Regions from separate parts of the Homo sapiens genome. Here region 1 is linked to region 2. The links come from fine-mapping of genetic effects on gene expression. A gene starts in region 2. The other region holds a variant in brackets. All regions are shown on one strand. Distances are between the middles of the regions. Region 1 overlaps UBE4B (ubiquitination factor E4B). Region 2 holds the start of KIF1B (kinesin family member 1B).

Region 1 (5,372 bases), 40 kb after region 2:
TCTTACGAGCCACTACTTTGTATGATAAAACTGCTTTAGACACACAGTCATGTGTCGCTCTGAGAAATGTCTTGTTAGGCAATTTCGTTGCTGTGTAAACATCATAGAATTTACTTACACAAACCTAGATGGCGTGGCCTACACCACGTCGAGGCTCTATGGTATAGCCTATTGCTCCTAGGCTACAAAACTGTACAGTGTGGGACTGTACTGAATCCTGTCGGCAGTTGTAACACAATGGTGAGTATTCTAAACACAGAAAAGGTACAGTGAAAATACGGTATTATAATATGATGGGGCCACATGGTCTTTGTGGTCCAGCATCGACAGAAACAGCACATGACTATGTATTTTTTCACTGCAAATCCTTTGTTAAGACCACTTCCCCTGCTACATCAGAAAGCACCTACATATGTGAGTTATAGCTCAATAAAGCTGTCATTAAAAAAAAGTACCTACAATGCTTCTATTGTAATATTACTCCTTTGGATGAGATATGGGTAAAGAACCTTCTAGAATGCCTACTGATGATTAACTTGAGCCATGAATAGTATTTGGATAAGTAGTGTGAACAAAGACAGAGACACAGAGACAAGCATGGTTCTTTGTGGGCATTTTAAGTGGACAGCAGAGAGACTGAGGATATGGGTTCAAGGCCAGGCTGCCTGGACATGGATCATGCCTCTGTCCCACACTAACTCTGTGACCTCGAGCAAGCTATTTAACCTCTCTGTGCCTCTTTCCTCACTTTAAAACAAAGACTTTACAGAACCTACCTCAAAGGATTTTGTGAGGACTAAATGGGTGGAGATACGAAAAGTGGGTGAAATGAGGTGTACAGTTAATAAACATTAGCTGTGAGGACGTTGAAAATGAGGCAGAACGGACCATGGAGGGGGCCAGCCCTTTATGGGATGACTAGAAGATCACGCAGGGACAGCTTAGCCTAAATCGGTGGCTGTGGAAATGAAGCACACACAGACAGATCTGCTCACAGGAGACCCACGGAATAAAGGAGAGGGAAGAATGTAAAGAAAACCACACAAGATTTTTAATCTGGACAACCCCAAAAATAACAGCACTCTAGCAGGAGACTAGGAAAGAAGATTCTGATCCCTTGAGAAACCGGGCTCTTTTCAGAAATGTAATGGATTTGTCAAGAAGGCCCTTAAAAAGATGGGGTAAGAACTCAACTGGAGAGGGCTCAGAGCGCCAAACCTGCTCTTTACTTTTGTTTTTTACTTACTTACTTACTTATTTATTTATTTTGAGACAGAGTCTCACCCTGTTGCCCAGGCTGGAGTGCAGTGGCACAATCTCAGCTCACTGAAACCTCTGCCTCCTGGGTTCAAGCGATTCTCCTGCCTCAGCCTCCCGAGTAGCTGTGATTACAGGCATGCACCACCACACTGAGGTAATTTTTTGTATCTTTAGTAGAGATGGGGTTTCACCATGTTAGCCAGGCTGGTCTCAAACTCCTGACCTCTTGATCTGCCCGCCTCGACCTCCCAAAGTGTTGGGATTACAGGCGTGAGCCACCGTGTTTTTGAGACAGGATCTCACTCTCTCACCCATTCTGGAGTGTGGTGGTGCAATCACGGCTCACTGCAGTCTGGCCTCAAGCAATCCCCCTGCCTTGGCCTCCCAGAATGTTGGGATTACAGGCCTGAGCCACCGCGCCCAGCCCAAATCTGCTCTTCACACTCAAAGGAAAACAACCCACTCATCTTCATTTACACCAGACGAGTTCCCTGGCCACTGTGGTTATTATCTCCAAATCTGCCAGTAAACTCACAGAGAGACCAACTCAACTCACTGACCTGGTCGTCAGCAATGGCTTTCGCGAACCGAGCACAGTCCAGCTGTAAGTAAATATCCGTCAGTTGGTCCAACAGCTTCTTTGGTTCAAAGCCGTATTTCTCAGGGTTTTCAACTTTCAGGTCACGGCACTTGGGGCCACAAAGTTGCTGAAGATTAAAGTTCAGCATTGCAGCCAATCGGGGTCCAAGCTCCTAGGAAATCACAGGATAATAGGACAATTCATGCTGTTGAGACAAGTGAAAAGGACCAAAAACTCCCATTTCAGTGGAGGAACAGGAATTGGTTGGATTAATCTTCAAAGAATCCTTACAGGTGCTGTGTATCATAAGCTGAAGAAAGACAACATTATATTTCAACTTTACTCCCCATTTCTGATCTGATAATTCTAATACTTAATGGAATGTTGCAGGCTGATGAAATATTTATTTATAAATACCAAAAGAAGCCAAACTTTTCTTTACATTTATGCTTTTAATTAAAAAAAGTATCACTCCAAATTCATTGAGAAACAAGTAAAAGAGAGAAAATTATACAAATCTTACCATTATCTGAGCAAAAAAAGTTTTGAGTCAGCTCTTCCAGCCAGTATTTCATAAACTTTTTTCCCCATAAATGTTAAAAGCCCCTGGCAGTTCAGTCTGTGTCATTCTTATGTACTTATCAGATACAAATAACAAAGTAATGCAAGGAAAGAAGATAAAAGTTATGCCTTGAATAGTTTTAAATCTAGTCAATGAGACAGAGTAAACTTAAATGAAACACCTGGAAAATAGTAATAATCTATGCTGTAATCTCACAAGGTGACTCAGTACCCACTACGGTTGGGCATACATGGTTTTAAGCAAACCTGAAACAGGAAGATGTGGCTTAGAGAGCATTA[A/C]ACACTGGCCATAAAAGGGAGTCACGAAAGCATTCCTTTAAGTCACAAGGTTTTCATGAAATGTAATAACTGGATTTATACAAATTCAACATATACTTAGCTTTTCAAGAATTTGCTTTTGCACAGAGTACTCCTGTATTTCACTGTTGAGAAGCTGTGAAATAAAAGAGTCATAACAGGACAGAGTTGGTCATTCTGTTTGAAGTAGGAGAGATCTGAGCTAGTCAGTAAAGAAGGTGAAAATGCAAACCTTAAAGGTTTGCAAAATGAAATGCCTTTACACTTTGTCTGCAAAGGCCAGATAGTAAATAGTGTAGCAAAGGAAATGAAAACATCACAGCAGGCACAGGCACAGGCTGGGGCCAAAAGAACAGGGCTACAGTGTACAGATGGCTCAGGTCTATGAGCAGGCCTTAAAATAAATTTATTTATTTATTTTTGAGAAGAGTCTTGCTCTGTTACCCAGGTTGGAGTGGCGTGATCTCGGCTCACTGCGACCTCTGCCTTTTGGGTTCAAGTGATTCTCCTGCCACAGCTTCCCAAGTAGCTGGGATTACAGGCATGCACTACCACGCCTGGCTAATTTTTGTATTTTTAGTAGAGACGGGGTTTCGCCATGTTGGCCAGGCTGGTCTGGAACTCCTGACCTCAGGTGATCCACCCTTCTTGGCCTCTCAAAGTGCTGGGATTACAGGCATGAGCCACCGTGCTTGGCCTTATGCCAGGTACTTCTATGTGTGTTTTCGCTTAGTCTTCCCAACAAGTGTACAAAATAGGTGGGTGTTGACCTTGTTACAAAGGAATTAATCAACTATTTACTATCTGGCCTTCACAGAATTCTGCAAACCTTGAAGGGAGGCCAGTGTCTGGCCAGTGAGCTGTTTTGTTTCATGCTCCATGGCCTTGCACTTTGCAAACTTTTAAGGGAGGCCAGTGTCTGAGCTGTTTTGTTTCGTGTTCCATGGCTCTTGCACTGAAATCTGTTTATGAAGAGACATGAGGTGGAAAGTTAAAAGAGTGGAAAAGAGTTGTCCCCAGGCCAGGGAGTGGCAATAGTGCCTCTGCTGATGACAGGAGTCACATAACAGAGAGTCACATAACGAAGGTAAGAGCAAATACAGAAAATCAGGGGAAATATGCAGTAACGTCATATTCCATTGTAAAGTAAACATGTCTCCACATAGGCAAATGGCTACCGAATCTTAGGTCCCCGTCTTGCCTTCCTCACTACCCTTGTCCTGGCCACACCATAAAACTTTTCAACTTTGTGGTGGGGGTGGCTGAAGCAGGGCAGAAATCTTCAGTGATGCTGCTCAGTTTCAATTTTAGAAATAGGAACCAGGTCTTACTAGTTGAGAACAAACATTCTGACTATTTGCAATCCACCATAAACCCTAGTGATGGCCGGCTCCCATTAACCTTTGGCTTCCTGAGTGTAACAAAGGTACAGCTAAGAGAGCCAAAGATTTTACACGGTCTCAATTATTCTACTTAATATCCTTCCATTGTCAACAGCTGTTACCTTATGCTTTTTCTTCTTCTTTTTTTTTTTTTTTTGAGATGGAGTCTCACTCTGTCGCCCAGGCTGGAGTGCAGTGGCACCATCTCGGCTCACTGCCAGCTCTGCCTCCCGGGTTCACGCCATTCTCCTGCCTCAGCCTCCTGAGTAGCTGGGACTACAGGTGCCCACCACCACGCCCAGCTAATTTTTTGTACTTTTAGTAGAGATGGGGTTTCACTGTGTTAGCCAGGATGGTCTCCATCTCCTGACCTCGTGATCTGCCCGCCTTGGGCTCCCAAAGTGCTGGGATTACAGGCGTGAGCCACCGCACCCGGCACCTTATGCTTTTTCTATAAGTAAAATATAGGAATCAATAATGGTAAAAATATGTCATGACATCAACATGAATAATCCAATGTACTGTCTAAGCACAAAGTGCAGTAAGGCATTTGGAAGTGGCTGTAGACTATGTGGTGACATCAGACATCTGCTCTTCAGTCCATCAACAGAGTCTGGTATCAATTAGCATAACTGGGAACAAAATCAGTCACAGAATTTCACTTATTGATGACTGTGATCCTAAAATTTCCAGAACTTCAACAACTGCTAAAGTTATAAGTGAGAGAGTCTGAATGTGGAGTCCAAACCACCAAACAGAGCCCCGGGTTTCTACTCACCGGTCTGAGGAAGGGCTTCTGGACCTGCTTCGTGAGGATGTGGAACATGTCCACGGTTTCGGTGGCCAGGGCGAGGTAAGAGCGGGACACACGCTCATCCTGAGCAAGCTGAGACTGACGAGCCTGCTGCTGATCCTAGGACACATCGAACAGACGCTGAGTAAGGCTCGGTCCTGGTCATCAGCTCAGCAAAGCGCCAAGCACATAACTGGAAAGTGCGTGATAAACCCAACATGCTTAGGGAATGACAGAACCGCCTGCCACATGTCCCAGATAACTGAAGTTTCATCCTTTCAGCATCGGAGCTCTTTGAGACTTCCAGCCAGGTGATGTTGGTGCCTTATTTAACTCTGCTTCCTCAATGATAAAAGAAGTCACCATCTGCCGGGCGTGGTGGCTCACGCGTGTAATCCCAGCACTTTGCGAAGCCAAGGTGGGCGAATCACGAGGTCGAGATCGAGACCACCCTGGCCAACATGGTGAAACCCCGTCG
Region 2 (5,372 bases):
CAGAGTCCCACTCTGTTGCCCAGGGTGGTCTCGAACTCCTGAGCTCAAGGGATCCTCCTGTCTCAGCCTCCCAAAGTGTTGGGATTACAAGGCATGAGCCACCACACCCATCCCAAAATTTTTTACATAGTTCAACCTGAGAAGTTATGAGAATGTATTTATGAACAAATTGAACTTGAATGAAAGCAAAGGCCACAAAGAAGAAAGCAGGCATGCCATCTCTCCAGGTCCTGTCCACATCTAGGATATAGAAAAGAACAGATCTACAGACTCATGCTGAACCCAGTTATTGATCATCTCCAGACCTGCTTTACAATACCAACCTATGTGTAATTCTCATATTCCACCTTCAAACAATACATTAACAACACTTGCTCTATAATCCAGCAACCATATCAACTTAATCAGAAAGCACCACCTCACTTCTTAGAGGAACACAAGAACTAGATTTTGTTATGACTAAACTAAGGAGACAAAATGCCAGCCTTTAAATAAAATATCCACCATGATATCACCTCTTAAGAGTTATTCAAATCTCATCAGCACACTTTCATCAGGCTCAGACAGGCACATCATGACACAAAGCGGAATGTTCAATGGTGGCAGAACAGCTGCTCAGAGCAGTAAGAGATATGAGCAAGGGATCTGTTGACAATCTAATTTCAGCTACCTCGAGATTCCACAAAGATGACAGCCTGCGTCCTCAGAAATGCCGCCACTAGCCTCGCCCACTATCAGAATACTCTGGTTTACTTCTTCTCTGCAAGTCGAGCGACTCTGAAAATCTATCCATCCAATGCTCTACGGCTACTCGAGGCCTCCATACTGATACAGTGGCCTTAGCAATTCTCAGATCGGCCTATGCACATGTAAAGCATCAGCAGGCCTTTCACAGCCCCCGCACTGGACGCAGAAGATGAATAGAGAAACACGGAATTTCACCCCAACAAGAATGGAATCTTGAAGGCAGTTTACCTTGGAAGCTCATTTAGCAATCAAGGAAAAAAAAAAAAAGGGATCTGGAAGCTCCATTCTGGCGTTAGGGGCGGGAATGTTTTGTGTTGCATGAACAATGACTAGCTTGCTCAAGCAGCCTCCCAACCCCCACAACTTGGCTTCTGGTCTGGCCAGTCACCCTGAAAGCTGCCAGGGCTGTCACTCGGTGCCTTCCAACAACTGGACTTGGCTCCTAAAGGATTTGTCAGATCATCCTCCCAATATGGCTGCCCGAGTAATCCCAGTCGGCTGAATGCCGAGACCACACCAGCCTTCCTCACACCTGGCCAGCATCCAACAAGCCCCCTCCCTTCCTATCGCACCCCTCTTTCCAGGCCTCGAGCCCTCGGCTCCCCCAGCGCCAAGCGATGACCTTTCCTATCGCCATCTGGCAAAGGGCATAACCACATTCCCAGCCGAAGCCCGATGCCCACCACAAAGGAGGAAAGGGGAGAGGGAAAATGAGAAACGATGGCTTCAAACGAAGCACAGCCGCCCCCCGGGCTGCAACGTGCGCGGAGCCCAGGGAACGGCCAGGCAGCGGCGGGTCTGGAGAGCGCTGGGCACAGCCGGGGCCTGGCAGCGCGGGGGAAACGGAGGGCCGGTGCAGGGCACTGCGGGGGCCCCAGCCGACCGCTGGACGCCGGCCCGGGACTCGCTGCTGGCCTAGGGAGGGGTCCCCTCCCCCGAGGGCGAGGCTCCCGCACCCGGCGCCCGTCCCGCGCTACCTCCCCTCAGACCCCGCCCGGACCCCGGCCCGGCCGCTCCTCCCCGCGGAAGCGGCCCCCTCCCCAACCCCGCGACCGCGGCGCCAACCGCGGCCAGCCCCGCCGCCTTACCTCAGCCGCGCTGCAGACCGACGGGCGGACCGGGTCAACAGGAGCCGCGGCGCGCGGGGGCGCGGGGGGCCGGGCACCGACGCACCTCAGCGCGAGCAGCGGCCGCCGCGAGCCGCAGGGCGCCGCTCCGCAGCCCCATCACGCAGCAGCCCGGCACCGCATCGAGGTGGGAGGTGGGCGGTGGGCGGCGGACAGGAGTGCGCGAGTGCGGGAGGCCAGGGCGCGGCGACGGCCGGCGGTGACGGCTGCGGAGGACGGGGAGCTGCTCCGACGCGCGCGGGCGCCTCCCAGGACCGCTGCCGTCACACTGCCCCGCTTCGGCCCTCGCGAAACTCCGCCCGCAGTCGCCGGCGCGGGACACCGCCCCGAGCTGGGCCTCTGCGCGTCACCTCGTATCCGCCCCGGCGCCCGCGACGGACACGGGCTGTGACCAATCACAGCACAGAGCTCGGGGCGGCCAGCCAATCGTAGGGTGAGCCGGGGAGTGGGGCTGCTGCGGGGGGCTGCAGGAACATCGAGCGCCCCCTGGTGGCCCTCGGGCCGGCTCAACCAGGGGTGCGGGCTGGCCAAAGCCGGAGCCCGGAGTTCCCTCCCGGGTGACCCCCAAGGGCATTCGTCGGAATCAGCCGCCCCCAGCCACCCCGATAATCCGCCTTATACGGGGACAAAAGATTGACTGAGTGGAGCGGGGCGGGGCCCAGGGGTCCTGACGCCCGCAGAGGAGCTGGGATCAACATGGGAGGCGCCGAGAGTGGAATCATTGTCCGTCGGAAAACATCTCGCAGGCGGAACCGGCCGAACGCGGCGCGGTGGGAGCGGAACCCCGAGAGGGGATGAGCGCATCCCGCGGGAAGCTGCCTGGCCTATTCTTACAGAACCCGAGCAAAACACCTCCCACGCGCCACCTCGGGAGAGAAGGCGGAATGAGTAATGGAAAAGCATGACTTGGTGGGCATTCCACTTGTCTCCTTGGGAGACCGCGGAAGGGCTGTGAGGAGAGGAACAAACGCTTTGCACCGTCCCTGAGTTAACGAGCCCAGCCCCCTTCTGGGAGATGCCCTTGAAGGAGGGAGAGTGGAAGTTAGAAACCCGGAGGACACAAAAGCACGAGCAGTGATTTCTTTAAAATCAGATTTAGATTCAGCTGGAAAGAAAAATCTCACTGTTCAGAAACTGTTCAATTCAGTACTTAACAAAATATAATCTTCAGTGATAATATATTCAATTATCAGGCCCAGGCCGAGCACTATTACTTTATAAGGTTGTGAATTATTTTTATTTACTAGCAGACATTGAAAGTAAAATCACATGTCTTCCCCTGAATTAAATACAGTATTATTGTGAGTAAAAGGTATTATGTACAAGCATATGCACTAAAACATCGAAATTAATTTTCTACACTAATAATTCTGGAAAATCTCCACCACCACTCAAGTCCTCAGACTCTTCATCCGCTTTTATTGATCACGTCTCATTTTATAGAATTTAAGCTCCACCTACCTGCAAAAGGATTTGACATAGCTTACACTAAAGCATACAGCAGTGAAACCGTATAGCTTTAAAATAGGCGTAAAATTCATAATAATGAAACAAGCAAGAGACTTTTTAAAAGCTGTTTGAATGAGAGGCATGCCTAGAAAGAAAAATTTTTTTGTTTTGTTTTGAGACAGAGTTTTACTCTCGCCCAGGCTGAGCTCAGTGGCACGATGTCAAATCTCTGCAACCTCCGCCTCCCAGGTTCAAGCGATTCTCCTGCCTCAGCCTCCCGAGTAGCTGGGATTACAGGTGCCTGCCACCACGCCCGGCTAATTTTTGTATTTTTAGTAGAGACGGTGTTTCACTATGTTGGTCAGGTTGGTCTTGAACTCCTGACCTCAGGTGATCCACCTGTCTCAGCCTCTCAAAGTGCTGGGATTACAGGAATGAGCCACCGCGCCCGGCCAGAAAAACAATATTTTAAAAATCCATAGTCAAGGAAATATGTTGCCACTGAGCACAGAACTCAGCTCTTAGCTTCCTGACGGCTAAGAGTAAAATGAAACTATAGTAGGTTAATAAAGAGGAACTCATCAATTCAACAGTAGACACCACTTCATCATAGCGTGGACCTCCTTGCGTAAATACTGTGGTGAGCGCCATGGAGAGTTACGAAAACCTGGGTGGCTGTATTGCTTGAGCTCTCAATGGAGCACAATCTAAAAAGAATCTAAAACGTAGTGAAGAACCAGGCGCGGTGGCTCACGACAGTAATCCCAACACTTTGGGAGGCTGAGGCGGGTGGATCACTTGAGGTCAGGAGTTCGAGACCAGCCTGACCAACATGGCAAAACCCCATCTCTACTAAAAAATACAAAAATTAGCCAGGCGTGGTGGGCACGCCTGTAATACCAGCTACTTGGGAACCTGAGGCAGGAGAATCACTTGAACCCGGGAGGTGGACGAGGCGGCAGTTGCAGTGAGCTGAGATCCTACCACTGAACTCCAGCCTGGGAGATAGAGTGAGACTCTGTCTCAACAAAAAATAAAATAAAATTTAAAACAAAAACGTAGTGAAGAGGGTGTGATTGTGATTGGCAGGAGAAGAAGCTAGCCAAAGGGCACACAGAAGGCACAGAAGGGTCAATAAAGGCAAAGAAGGCTGCTCCAGGATCCAAGGCCAAACAGCCCACTCTGCATAAGCCTTTTGCCTCTCTGACAGATGAAGTCACACTGCCCAGCCAGTTTCTCAGATTACAAATTCTGTATAAAAGCATCTCTTTAAAATGATAAATAAATTACTAGAAAATTGAATGTAGCCATGATCTGGTAGGGCTGTCTCTGGAATGCAAGGATACGAGAACATCAGAAGTCCTAGTCACGTGGTGCACTGCCACTCTCCCATCACAATCACAATCACAATCAGGTTTCTGGATACAAAATCAATACACAAAAATCCGAAGTGTTCCTTTTTGATAGGAAGACTTTATTATTACTATTATTTTAGACAGGGTCTCACTCTGTCACCCAGGCTGGAGTGCAGTGGTGTGATCACAGCTTACTACAGCCTCAACCCTTGCCCCCTGGTTTAATCCATCCTCCCACCTCAGCCTCCTGAGTAGGTGGCACTATAGGCACACACCACCACGCCCAGCTAATTTTTCTATTTTTTGTAGAGACGGCTGGTATCCAGCTCCTGGACTCCAGTGATCCATCAACCTCAGCCTCCCAAAGTGCTGGGACTACAGGTGTGAGCCACTGAGCCTGGCCTTTATTGCTATTTTTAATGGGATCTTTTTAAAAAATCAAGTCTTCCCGGCCAGGTGCTGTGGCCCACGCCTGTAATCCCAGTACTTTGGGAGGCAGAGTAGGCTGATCGCTTGAGCCTAGGAGTTTGAGACAAGCCTAGGCAACATAACGAGACCCTATCTCTACAAAAAATACAAAAAAAAAAAAAAAAGTAGCCAGACATGGTGGTATGTACCTGTAGTCCCAGCTGCTTGGGAGGCTGAGTGGGAAGATCAATTGAGCCTGGAAGGTCAAGGCTACAGTGAGCTATGA

Evidence for each region. PIP is the estimated chance that this variant, and not a neighbour inherited with it, causes the effect.
Region 1: its variant is fine-mapped to the expression of KIF1B in activated naive CD4 T cells (Schmiedel 2018, PIP 0.92).

The regions. Positions count from the first base shown.
Region 1 is chr1:10,167,778-10,173,149 of GRCh38, reverse strand. It overlaps UBE4B (ubiquitination factor E4B), which reads right to left. Exons shown (of 28, transcript NM_001105562.3): 24 at 4,880-5,014; 25 at 1,821-2,012. Among named protein-coding and RNA genes, the nearest start is that of KIF1B, 40 kb to the left of the region's middle. RefSeq lists an enhancer at 2,557-2,606. The variant A/C (reference allele first, on the strand shown) is at 2,702.
Region 2 is chr1:10,207,342-10,212,713 of GRCh38, reverse strand. KIF1B (kinesin family member 1B) reads right to left here and starts at 2,144. Exons shown (of 49, transcript NM_001365951.3): 1 at 1,836-2,144. RefSeq lists an enhancer at 356-1,011 and silencers at 1,913-2,432, 2,463-2,542, 2,629-2,923.